Regions from separate parts of the Homo sapiens genome. Here all the other regions are reported to be linked to region 2. Evidence: microRNA targets listed by miRTarBase, many of them from high-throughput screens and not tested one by one. Region 2 holds a microRNA gene; each other region holds the end of a gene's coding sequence. Distances are between the middles of the regions.
The links. The annotated mature microRNA hsa-miR-3671 reads AUCAAAUAAGGACUAGUCUGCA and lies in region 2 at 1,941-1,962, opposite strand. An mRNA with a match to its seed (bases 2 to 7 or 8) in the 3' UTR can be bound and repressed. Matches are read on the target gene's strand: a 7mer-m8 pairs with bases 2 to 8, a 7mer-A1 pairs with bases 2 to 7 and ends in A, and an 8mer does both.

Region 1 (4,000 bases), not on the chromosome of region 2:
AGTAGCTGGAGCCCCAGTCCCACAAGGAGCTTGGATGTGCGGACAAGCAGGGTGGTGAGTAGAGCCCTCAGGCGGGGTGGGCAGGCAGGAGCAGGGGAGGCTCGCACTGTGCCCAGATTCCCACCCCCCTCCCTCTCTCTGAAGATCTTAGTGGGCTGAGCCTCACTGATAGCATGGAGGCTGCACCGGGAGAGGACAGGGAGGGTTCTCCCCCATGACAACCCCACTGCACAGCAGATCCAGCAGCTGCTTCCTCTAATGCAGGACTCCCCAGGAGCACCCAGGCTTGAGTGGAGAAGCTGTTGGTACAGGAGAGGCGGCAGGAGGAGCAGGAGAGGCTGCATGCCATTCTTTTCGGGCTGCGGAGAACAGGGAGCTAAACATCACCATCATCTAAGAGCGGGTCAAGGAATTGAAAAAAAAAAACAAAACATTTAAGGGGTTAATATCCTACACAATTCATTTACTTCATTTGAATGTTAGAGCCACTTATGTTTATTTGTGTTTCTAATTTATAGTTTAAATTTATTTGTGTTTCTAATTTATAGTTTAAATTTATTTGTGTTTCTAATTTATAGTTTAAATTTATTTGTGTTTCTAATTTATAATTTAAATTTATTTGTAAAAAGTTAAATGAGAGTGGGTGTTTCTCTCATGTTCACTCTGGCATCTTTTAGCATTTTTTTAATTTGATAATTATAGGACGTTAGCATGCATATCGAGTTTGCCCTTATGTGGTGGGAGTTCAAACACACAAAGACCCACTGTATGCACACAACTGTTCTTGCTGGTTTGGGATAGGCTGCCATGCTTTTTGAATGTTAGTACAGCCTGTATATTCATTACGGAATTCAGATAAAATTTCCTTATGTTCTGCTGTTATGTTTGATCGAATCCTAATCACAGTGAGCTCTTCATTAGCTCAATATGCAGTTTGCCCTCAAGTGCGCGGTCTATTACTTTGTAATATGCCACTGTGAGTACTGACATTTACAGTTGTTTAAAGGTGGAGCACTGGAAACAGCCTTTCCCCCTTTTTCTGTGTATTGGGGATGGGAGTAATAACATTTTGGGGAGGTTTTTAAATCTCCCAGAAGAGGAAAGTGGCCTGCTTTGGCAGGTGTGTGCAGGATAGAATATGTTTCATTTGTTCCGGTGCCAAGAATGAGCGCTGTACTACGGTAGTTCCCTTAGGATTTGTATGTGCTCTGGGCTCATGAAGATACTGCCTCATGAGCTGTGGCAGTTGTACTCTTTTTTGATGACCTGAAAAGGGATTATTTCTGAGGAATGAAAGGCTCCCATCATGACTGTGGATGTGGAAAACCTTTTCTAGCTGAGAGCATTTATATCTACAATACATTTTAAAGTCAGCGTTCATGTTCCCTGTTTTAATCACATGACTACATGTCCCAGTACACAAAAGGGCACTGGTTGGCGTTCTCCTTAATGTATTTAGTAAAGATCAGAAGAAATCCTTTAAGAGTTTAAATGCCCCTGGAACAGGCATATACAGGCTCTAGTCAAGAATGAATTCGAGTGAAGGAAAGCTGTGTGACACCTGGCATTCCTCTGTGTTCATGGAGCTTATTTGAGGCTAGAAGATGGATTTTACCATCTAGACCTCTCTGGCTAATAGCTAGTCTTCAACCATCTGACATAGGAATTTACTTCTTTTCCTTGAATGGAGAACACTTTAAAAATAATAACAAACATTATTATAAACTAATATATGTGAGAGTACTTAGTTGAAACAAAAAGGAGTTTTAGTAGACAGTATTATACTACATTTGAAAATCAAGGAGCAGTTTATGCAACGTAAAATGTTTACAAACTGCAGCGCAATCTACTGTTTGTGACTGTCAAAGTGTCATGAGGAAAGTGTCTATACAATCACAGAGTTATATTTCCTCACAAAGTTCTTTACGAAGAGTGAAATATGTTTTTATACCTCTCAGTTTCAGTTAGAGGCATATTTTGTGTAATATTTATGGCTTAAAATGGACTAAAGGTCCTGTTCTTGCCTTGTCTGAACTTGCCGCTTTTGCATTCTTTGAGTTCAGTTTAAAGACACTTACTTTAACTCCATTTTAAACCCTCGGGCTAGAAATCGTACCACTGTTAATTAGCCACGTTATTTGGTCTAACAGTTTTTGTTTATCATTCTGAAACTGAGCTTATCTAATACATTGATAAATTATTTCAAAGGTATTTTTATAGTTCAAATCGCTTCACTTTTACCCTGACACGTATAAATGAATAGGAATGACCTTCAGATAGCGTTTAGCAACTGTAACCAATCTGACAATAATGTGTTCATCAGGTACCTGTGGATTAAATCACATACTGGCATATTTAAGATGAATGTCAGTCTGAAAAATAAATATACTATATTAATTCAAATACGACTCTTTGTGTAGGTATTTTGTCATATGTTTAAGAAAAAGCTAAAGAGAATGGAAATCCTATGACAATAACTCAAGTCTTTCTTCAAAGTGCATGCAGTCTTTTGCAGTACCTCATTCAGCCAAGTATTTGTTCTCTACCTCATTCAGTATAAGGCAGCCTTTAATTTGCTTAGAAGGCAACATTAGAAGGTTAGAGTTCAGCAGGAACATAGAATTTTAAAATGTGACTTCAACTGAATAAATTTGAATTTCTCTAGGGAGTAAAGAATCAAAACACCTATTTAAAGACTGCAAAATATGATAATTATTTTTAAAGTAATTGATTAAACCTGGTAGGTTTTCCCAAAATGAAAAACAATCAGTTCTAAAACCAAAGCTGATTTTTAGAAAATGTGAAAATGTAAATCAACCCTATCCATAATAGATTCTCTAAAACTTTATCTTACAGTCACTTTCAAATAACTATTCAAAAATGTAACTGCTATATTAACGTCTTAAAATAATTTAAAACATTTTAAAATATGAATACTGTAGTTTAAAACAAAGAATCTAGGGGAAGGAAAAGTAGACAAAGAAATGCCAATTCCAGTCCAAAGCTGTATTTGCCAAGTTTTCTTAGAATGACTTTTACCGATTTATGAATTCTTATACACAGAATGCATAATGGAAATACTGATTTTTGTCTAAAGTGGCATTATTGACTGCTTCTGTGATGCTACTGTAATGTAATACATTATTAAATTGTTTCAAGGTGCTGTTTTGCCTAAAAATTTTGTGTGTCTTGAAAACTATAGTATTGGGTATTGAGACTCTGCAAATTCTCGGCATGCTTGGCATGAGGTAATCGGTTTTTATTCTTACAAAATTGTAACTATGTAAGTGTGTTTATTAAAAGAACACAAACTAAAAAAGTTAACAGAAATTAAAGTTGTGGGATGAAAAAGTTACAGGATAAAAAAATACTGTGGAAAAGTGGCAAAAAAAAGTTGTGGAAAAAAAGTAAAAAAAAAGTTTTATGAAAAGTTATTTTAAAAAGTTATGAAAAATTAGTTACAGGATTTAAAAAAAGTCATGGGATAAAAATAAAAATAAATAAAAGCAGGCCCCTGTCAGCATAAGCCTGGAGAAGTGGGTCTGGAGTCTTCACCCCCACCATGTCCCTACAACCCCTCCCCAGTCAGCCCTTTACCATTAGGGTAGCAAGACAAGACCCTTGTCTAATGGAGGGAGACAAACAGACCCTTTACCACCTTGACCAAGGCTGAGTCCTTACATTTCTGGATGATGATGTTTGTTATTTAAGAGCCAGAGGTTGGTGGAGTTGGTTTGTTTGGAGGAGGTCTGACGGCCTTCTTACTCTCACCAAAGCAACTTTTCCCTCAGGGGGGCTCCCATCTTCTTACTCAGAGAGGCAGCTGAGGCGGGACAGTGGAGTTAACTGTAGACCAGGCCAGGGCACAGGCTGCTGGGGGTGGCCCCCCTTCCCCCGTGTACATACTGTAGCTGTGTAACATTCTGTATCGTACCTAGCGGAGGTTGCAGCTGGCATATGAGGAAGAGGTTCTTATAATTATTCGCGGCTGGGAAACTTA
Region 2 (4,686 bases):
CTCTGTCCGTAGTGCAGGGTGACTGCAAATGACACCCAACACTCAGTTCTTCAACACCCCACAGGCCTGGTTGTAGATTTTGAGGTCAAGGTTGGGTAAGTATAAAACCCAATGAATTTTTATAAAACTAGTAACGGGGAAAACAGGAAGATCAGGGAAGGTGGTGAAATCTTCACCAAGGCCAATGATTGCACAACACATAACTTCTTGAAGCACTTTTTTCCACCTGCTCAAACACTAAACATAAGGAGTGTTTCAAATTACTTGAGGATTCACCAATCCCTAACTTTCCCTTCCTAAAAGTTCTTCCAGAGTTTCTGTCAGAAATTCCTTTTAAGAAAACTCCAAAGAATTTCAGGAGTGGTAGCATAATAACTGGGGAGACCCCTCTCTCTAATTAATCAAAAACGTAGTGTAGCTTATATAGCTTAGAGAAATTGTGGATCTATGAGGACATGTGAAGGTACTGGGCTATAATGTGGTCAATGTGTCTGAAAAAATAACAGTTCTGGGCCAACCAAGTGTGGCTCAAGGGATCACTACTAAGAATGGTTCCTCTTTGGGTAGAGCAGAGGGAAGAGACACTAAAGGGAACTGCAATCACCAGCAAAGGAACACAGTGACCATCAATGTCTGAGGACTGGCACAATGAAGGATAAGAAAGAACCTCTCTGTACGAGGCCTACTCCCTTTCAGTTCCCTTTCTTCCCCATTGTGTCCCAGTGGAGGACCTGATAATACACCTGACCCATATCTAAGACATGCAGTTGGCAGGGCTGATAGTAGGTAAGGTTCACAGTATGTTAAAAAGTCACACGAGGCCGGGTGCAGTGGCTCAATGCCTGTAATCTCAGCACTTTGGGAGGCTGAGGGTAGGAGAATCACTTGAGGACAGGAGTTTGAAACCAGTTTGGGCAACATGGTGAAACACCATCTCTACCAAAAATACAAAATTACATGGGCATGGTGGTGCACACCTGTAATCCCAGCTACTCGGCAGGCTGAGGCATAAGGATCACTTGACCCCGGGAGGCAGAGGTTGCAGTGAACCAAGACTGAGCTACTGCACTCCAGCCTGACCGCAGACTGAGACTCTTTCTTTAAAAAAAAAAAAAAAAAAAAAAGTCACAAATGGTTTTTCTCTCCCTGGCCCCTCTTCTCTCTGTGGTAGGTAGGTTCAAATTACAGCCTAACCTCAGCCATCTCTGTTCTCTTTGCTCAAGCATATGGGTCACTGCTTTGGGTTCCTACACCAGTCAGACATCCACAGGCTCCCAGATACAGACATGAGCCTAGGATGAGGTAATATACCCGATTAGGCTCTGAGCCTAAAACACGTTCCATGAAATTACCTGAGCCTTCCTTGCACAGTACTGTGATCTAAGATCTAACACATAATCAAGTCATGCACTTTGTTTCTTATTTGCTATTGTTACATGTGTACAGTGTCCTTAGGAGTCTACAGGGAAGAGGGATAATTGGCAGAGATTGGCATTGGCAGAATCCTGGGTTCTCCAATAACCACCTTTCACCCCCAGCAGTACTCTCTAGAGTAAGATGGAGGTTGAAGATGTGTGCTGTTAAATTTCCTAATCCTGGCTGGGTATAGTGGCTCATGCCTGTAATCCCAGCACTTTGGGAGGCTGAGGTGGGAGAATCAATTAAGCTCAGGAGGTCAAGACCAGCCTTGGCAACATAGTGAACTCCTGTCTCTACTAAAAATTTGCAGGTGGGTGGCCTGAGCCTGTAGTCTCAGACTCGGGAGGTTGAGGTGGGAGGATTGCTTGAGCCTGGGAGATCAAGGTTGAAGTAAGCTATGATCATGCCACTGCACTCCCGTGTGGGCAACAAAAAAAAAATTTCCTAGTCTTTCATGCACGTGATGCTGGCTTGGTGTTTACAGCTTCGTATTCCTGAAATCGATATGTGCCAGATATCACTGCAGACTAGTCCTTATTTGATAGAAATAAAATAATTTACATTTTATTTTCATGTAAATGTGACAGCAGCAGCAATAACATAGGCATTCAGTAAATATTCTTTTGAATTAGGCCAGATCCTAAATATCCTGAAAGAAACATGACATGTCACTATCTACTCCTTCAAGACAAAGATATACTTTTTTTCTTTCTTCACTTCAGTAAGCTGGTCTACAATGATGGACTTTTATTTATGCAACAATTTCAATACTGTTCAACATATTGGGCTTTTTTTTTCTCCCTGTAAGTAGAATCTGATTTTGAAATCTAGTAGTGTACTGACAAGTGCCAAGCTGTTCTAATTAGGTTACCTTTCACATTTATAAAAATGGTACGAAGTTCTCTGAATACCATTCCAGAAATACTAATTCATACTTACCTATTTTCAGTCTCCTAAAGGTTCCAAAGATCTTAATATATGTTCACTCAGCACAACATGGCTGCACCAACAACTACCCCATGTTACAAAACAAGGCAAAGAGAAGCAGAATAACTCTCCCTATGCCCCGGGAGAAGTATGACAGAGGTGCAGGGTAAGAGGGTTTCTGGGTCCCAGCCACCTGTTTCACATTCCTCTTTCACCTTCTTTCTTCCTGGGTACGGTGAGGCTCCTCTGATGGAAGGTAAGATGGCTGCCATCCTTCAGTTATCACAGTACTGTACCTTTAGAATAGACAGCATCAGCACTGTGATAACTGAGCCAGGGCAGCCTGTCAGTCACTGTGTCGGTCAACGGCATCCTTTCTGGTGGCTGCATTACTCTCTCTGAAGGCTCCCCATGAAGTGAAGGACTAAAAGATCACCTTCTGGTTGGAGACGTGAGGAGGCAGAAGAAAAAGAAGGATCAGAGCCCAGCAAGTGGTGAGGCTGAAATATTAAAAGGCCCAGTTGAATTAAATTAGAATGAAAGATGAACACATGACTTATCCATATTAATGAGGATGAACAACTGCATGATTAGGTTTTCACTCTAATACATCAAATATGCAGTAAGCTTCCAGCATATTTCACAGCTTATCTCTTCCATGCATGGATTCACTGACTGTGCCTCCCTGACCTCAATCATTGATTTTTCATATATATACCGAGGAACTACTACGTTCTAAAGCCCTCTTCTAGATGTTCAGGAAATAAAGATAACTAAGACATGATTCCTGTCTTCAAAGTGCTCATAACCAAACATGACAATAATACTTCATATCTGCCAAACATTCAAAACTGCTCTATATGTTTTCTCATTTGGTTTTCACAAGACGCTATGGGGCTGGCAATGAATTATTCATTAATTCATCAAAAAAGGATTCTGGAAATAGATTAGATATTATTACCCCATTTTATAGGCAGAAAAAAAAAAAAAAAACTTAGGTGATTTGCCAGAGATCATATATTGCTAAGTTATGGCGAACCCATGTCCAGAACCATGTCAAATGAGTGAACACAGTGCTTTGTTTTCTCTACCCTACCCTAGCTGTCCAACTCCATCAACTGGATATTCAGTTTACACAAACAAAAGGATTTCTAAAAACATTTACTTTTTGTTTTAGTTTTCTCAGTAACTGAGATCATGAAGCAGAAGCTAGTGGGGCTTTATAATTAAGAAGAAAAATGCACATTAGCAAAAATGACTTTCATTCCTCTTGCTCTGAGTGCTAAGAATGTACTCAAATTAGTAACATTGATATTTTTCACTATAGTTTATGTCAATTCTATACCTATGGTGATACTGACAACCTTCAGAATACCTTTTTAAAAAGTAATAATAACATATACACATCACTTGCTTTTAAATTATCTGTACCTTTGAGACGTACTCTGAAGTCATTTTAGGGATGATTCTTCCTTTTAATAAAAAGTACAAAAGATTCTGAAATTGGAATTCAGGCATCAGAATATCAACTTATTAAAACCATGATTCACTTGGGTTTTTTCCATGTCATAAGGTTTCAAGTTATTTCAATATGAGTGGAACTTGACAGATATTTGAAAAATAATTATGTTTTCATTAGGCATTTGCTCAATTTCAAAGACTCATTATATGCATATTAGATATTAGCACTGTACTTCAAATAAGTCAGGTAGATGAATCAATTCTTTAGATCAGCAGAAGTCAGAAAATAAAAGTACAGTGAATCTAACTCAACTATTAACTTTACGTACTATGAAAATGACCTTATCTTCAGAAAAGCAACATCCAATGAAACAATCCACCTACACACAAATTAAAAACAACATTGCCTAAAATGCAAAAATATCTAAAAATTAAGGAGGTCATCATCTAGGTCTTAGCCAACTGTAATACAGAGTTGAAACACGAGAGGGCAACGAAGATTAAAGAAAAAAAAAAAATCACAGTTGGATCCCATAACCTAAGGTTCTTGGAAATAGTTGCACATTTTTACCCGAATTATAAACATCTGCTACGTGAACAAAGATACTGTGATTATTTTAGAGTAAAATTTTAGATAGCTGTTCCACGAAAAAGGATAAGATTATCAACTAATATTTCTTGACCACAATTCTGTCAGCTTTGGAAAACTGAATACTTACCCTGAAACACTGAAGGTTGGGTAAGTATGGAGACAAATAAATAATCCTGACATATTTGTAGTTATTAGACTGTTCTTCACCAAAATATTAGTGTGATTCAATGTCTAAATATGAAGTATAAAGACGAAGGAAGTGTACTGCAAAGTTGAAATTCACTCTA
Region 3 (4,000 bases), 57 Mb from region 2:
GCATGAGCCACCACGCCTGGCTGAGTTTGTTAAAATTAAAGGGGAGAATGTTTGCTGCTTAGAGATGTTCTGCAGCTATAATTTATGGAAAATAAGTGTTAAATGATTCAAATAGACAACAAAATATACGTATCTTAAAATTTTTTTTTTAGCATTTATGAGACCAGTACAAACTACTCAAGAGGAAGATGGCTGTAGCTGCCGATTTCCAGAAGAAGAAGAAGGAGGATGTGAACTGTGAAATGGAAGTCAATAGGGCTGTTGGGACTTTCTTGAAAAGAAGCAAGGAAATATGAGTCATCCGCTATCACAGCTTTCAAAAGCAAGAACACCATCCTACATAATACCCAGGATTCCCCCAACACACGTTCTTTTCTAAATGCCAATGAGTTGGCCTTTAAAAATGCACCACTTTTTTTTTTTTTTTGACAGGGTCTCACTCTGTCACCCAGGCTGGAGTGCAGTGGCACCACCATGGCTCTCTGCAGCCTTGACCTCTGGGAGCTCAAGTGATCCTCCTGCCTCAGTCTCCTGAGTAGCTGGAACTACAAGGAAGGGCCACCACACCTGACTAACTTTTTTGTTTTTTGTTTGGTAAAGATGGCATTTCACCATGTTGTACAGGCTGGTCTCAAACTCCTAGGTTCACTTTGGCCTCCCAAAGTGCTGGGATTACAGACATGAACTGCCAGGCCCGGCCAAAATAATGCACCACTTTTAACAGAACAGACAGATGAGGACAGAGCTGGTGATAAAAAAAAAAAAAAAAAAGCATTTTCTAGATACCACTTAACAGGTTTGAGCTAGTTTTTTTGAAATCCAAAGAAAATTATAGTTTAAATTCAATTACATAGTCCAGTGGTCCAACTATAATTATAATCAAAATCAATGCAGGTTTGTTTTTTGGTGCTAATATGACATATGACAATAAGCCACGAGGTGCAGTAAGTACCCGACTAAAGTTTCCGTGGGTTCTGTCATGTAACACGACATGCTCCACCGTCAGGGGGGAGTATGAGCAGAGTGCCTGAGTTTAGGGTCAAGGACAAAAAACCTCAGGCCTGGAGGAAGTTTTGGAAAGAGTTCAAGTGTCTGTATATCCTATGGTCTTCTCCATCCTCACACCTTCTGCCTTTGTCCTGCTCCCTTTTAAGCCAGGTTACATTCTAAAAATTCTTAACTTTTAACATAATATTTTATACCAAAGCCAATAAATGAACTGCATATGATAGGTATGAAGTACAGTGAGAAAATTAACACCTGTGAGCTCATTGTCCTACCACAGCACTAGAGTGGGGGCCGCCAAACTCCCATGGCCAAACCTGGTGCACCATTTGCCTTTGTTTGTCTGTTGGTTTGCTTGAGACAGTCTTGCTCTGTTGCCCAGGCTGGAATGGAGTGGCTATTCACAGGCACAATCATAGCACACTTTAGCCTTAAACTCCTGGGCTCAAGTGATCCACCCGCCTCAGTCTCCCAAGTAGCTGGGATTACAGGTGCAAACCTGGCATGCCTGCCATTGTTTGGCTTATGATCTAAGGATAGCTTTTTAAATTTTATTCATTTTATTTTTTTTTGAGACAGTGTCTCACTCTGTCTCCCAGGCTGGAGTACAGTGGTACAATCTTGGATCACCGCCTCCCAGTTTCAAGTGATCTCCCTGCCTCAGCCTCCTAAGTAGCTGGGACTACAGGTATGTGCCACCACGCCTGGCTAATTTTTATATTTTTAGTAGAGACGGGGTTTCACCATGTTGTCCAGGCTGGTCTCAAACTCCTGACCTCAGGTGATCTGCCCACCTCTGCCTCCCAAAGTGCTGGGATTACAGGCATGAGCCACCATGCCTGGCCATTTCTTACACTTTTGTATGACATGCCTATTGCAAGCTTGCGTGCCTCTGTCCCATGTTATTTTACTCTGGGATTTAGGTGGAGGGAGCAGCTTCTATTTGGAACATTGGCCATCGCATGGCAAATGGGTATCTGTCACTTCTGCTCCTATTTAGTTGGTTCTACTATAACCTTTAGAGCAAATCCTGCAGCCAAGCCAGGCATCAATAGGGCAGAAAAGTATATTCTGTAAATAGGGGTGAGGAGAAGATATTTCTGAACAATAGTCTACTGCAGTACCAAATTGCTTTTCAAAGTGGCTGTTCTAATGTACTCCCGTCAGTCATATAAGTGTCATGTAAGTATCCCATTGATCCACATCCTTGCTACCCTCTGGTACTATCAGGTGCCCTTAATTTTGCCAAGCCAGTGGGTATAGAATGAGATCTCACTGTGGTCTTAGTTTGCATTTGCTTGGTTACTGATGAGCACCTTGTCAAATATTTATATACCATTTGTGTTTATTTTTTTAAATAAAATGCTTGCTCATGCTTTTTTGCCCATTTGCAAAAAAACTTGGGGCCGGGTGCAGTGGCTCATGCCTGTAGTCCCAGCTCTTTGGGAGGCCAAGGTGGGCAGATCGCTTGAGCCCAGGAGTTCGAGACCAGCCTTGGCAACATGGCGAAACCCTGTCTTTACAAAAAATACAAAAATTAGCCGGGTGTGGTGGTGTGCACCTGAAGTCCCAGCTACTCAGTAGGTTCGCTTTGAGCCTGGGAGGCAGAGGTTGCAGTGAGCTGGGACCGCATCACTACACTTCAGCCTGGGCAACAGAGAAAAACCTTTTCTCAGAAACAAACAAACCCAAATGTGGTTGTTTGTCCTGATTCCTAAAAGGTCTTTATGTATTCTAGATAATAATCTTTGGTCAGTTATATGTGTTAAAAAATATCTTCTTTGTGGCCAGGCACGGTAGCTCACACCTGTAATCCCAGCACTTTGCGGGGCTGAGGTGGGTGGATCATCTGAGGTCAAGAGTTCAAGATCAGCCTGGCCAACACAGTGAAACCCCATCTCTACTAAACATGTACAAAACTTAGCTGGGTATGGTGGCGGGTGCCTGTAACCCCAGCTGCTCCAGAGGCTGTGGCAGAAGAATCGCTTGAACCCAGGAGGCAGAGGTTGCAGCGAGCCAAGATTGTGCCATTGCACTCCAGACTGGGTGACAAGAGTGAAATTCTGCCTATCTATCTATCTATCTATCTATATCTATATATATATATATATATATCCTTTGTAATTTATTTTTCCCTTTTTAAAATTTTTTATAAAATTCTTTTTTATTTTTATTTTTAGCAGAGGTGAGGTTTCTGAGGTTTCATTATGTTGCCCAGGCTGGTCTTGAACTCCTGAGCTCAAGTGATCCTCCCACCTCAGCCTTCCAAAGTGCTGGAATTGCAGACATGAGCCACCGCGCCCCTCCTGTTTTTCTCTAATTAATGGTGTCTTTCTTTGTCTTTCTGGTAATAAGCAAAAAGTTCTTCATTTGATTTGGTTAAATTTATAACTGTTTTCTCATATGGTTAACATTTTTTCTTGCCTGGCTAAAGAAATCCTTTTCTGCCCAATACTATAAAGAGGTTTGCCCACATTTTATTCCAAAAGTTTTAAGTTTTGTCTTTCATCTTGAAGTCTAATGTATCAGGAACTGGCTTTTGTGCCTGTTGGGAGGTAGTGATCCAATTCCATGTCTTGCATGTAGGTAACCACTGGTCCCTGCGCCATGTATTCAATACGTCGTCTTTCTCCTGCGGGTCTGCAATCTCACCTACCATCCATCAAGTTTCCATAGGGCCATGGGTCTGCTTCTGGGCTCCCTGTTCTGTTCCATTGTCAATTTGTCTATCCTGTGCCAGTATCACACTGTGTTTATTACAATAGCTTTGTAACAGCTCTCGATATCCGGTAGGACATCTCCCTCCACCTTCTTTTTCTACTTCAGAAGTGTCTTAGCTAGGTCAGGCACGGTGGCTCACGCCTGTAATCCCAGCACTTTGGGAGGCCGACGCGGATGGATCACCTGAGGTCAGGAGTTTTGAGACAGCCTGGCCAACATGGTGAAACCCCATCTCTACTAAAAAATACAAAAATTAGTCAGGCATGGTGGCATG

Region 1: the mRNA of GOLGA6L4 is a reported target of hsa-miR-3671. Seed matches in the 3' UTR shown: 7mer-A1 at 471-477, 7mer-m8 at 1,589-1,595, 7mer-A1 at 1,789-1,795 and 7mer-A1 at 2,650-2,656.
Region 3: the mRNA of TNFRSF9 is a reported target of hsa-miR-3671. The part of its 3' UTR that is shown has no 7-base or 8-base seed match.

The regions. Positions count from the first base shown.
Region 1 is chr15:84,242,196-84,246,195 of GRCh38, forward strand. It overlaps GOLGA6L4 (golgin A6 family like 4), which reads left to right. Exons shown (of 9, transcript NM_001267536.3): 8 at 1-54; 9 at 265-3,163. The coding sequence ends at 397. Among named protein-coding and RNA genes, the nearest start is that of GOLGA6L4, 8.4 kb to the left of the region's middle.
Region 2 is chr1:65,055,822-65,060,507 of GRCh38, forward strand. MIR3671 (microRNA 3671) reads right to left here and starts at 2,021; the gene lies at 1,934-2,021. It overlaps MIR101-1 (microRNA 101-1), which reads right to left and starts at 2,687; the gene lies at 2,613-2,687. It also overlaps a transcript of JAK1 not described here.
Region 3 is chr1:7,917,076-7,921,075 of GRCh38, reverse strand. It overlaps TNFRSF9 (TNF receptor superfamily member 9), which reads left to right. Exons shown (of 8, transcript NM_001561.6): 8 at 153-4,000. The coding sequence ends at 241. Among named protein-coding and RNA genes, the nearest start is that of TNFRSF9, 22 kb to the left of the region's middle.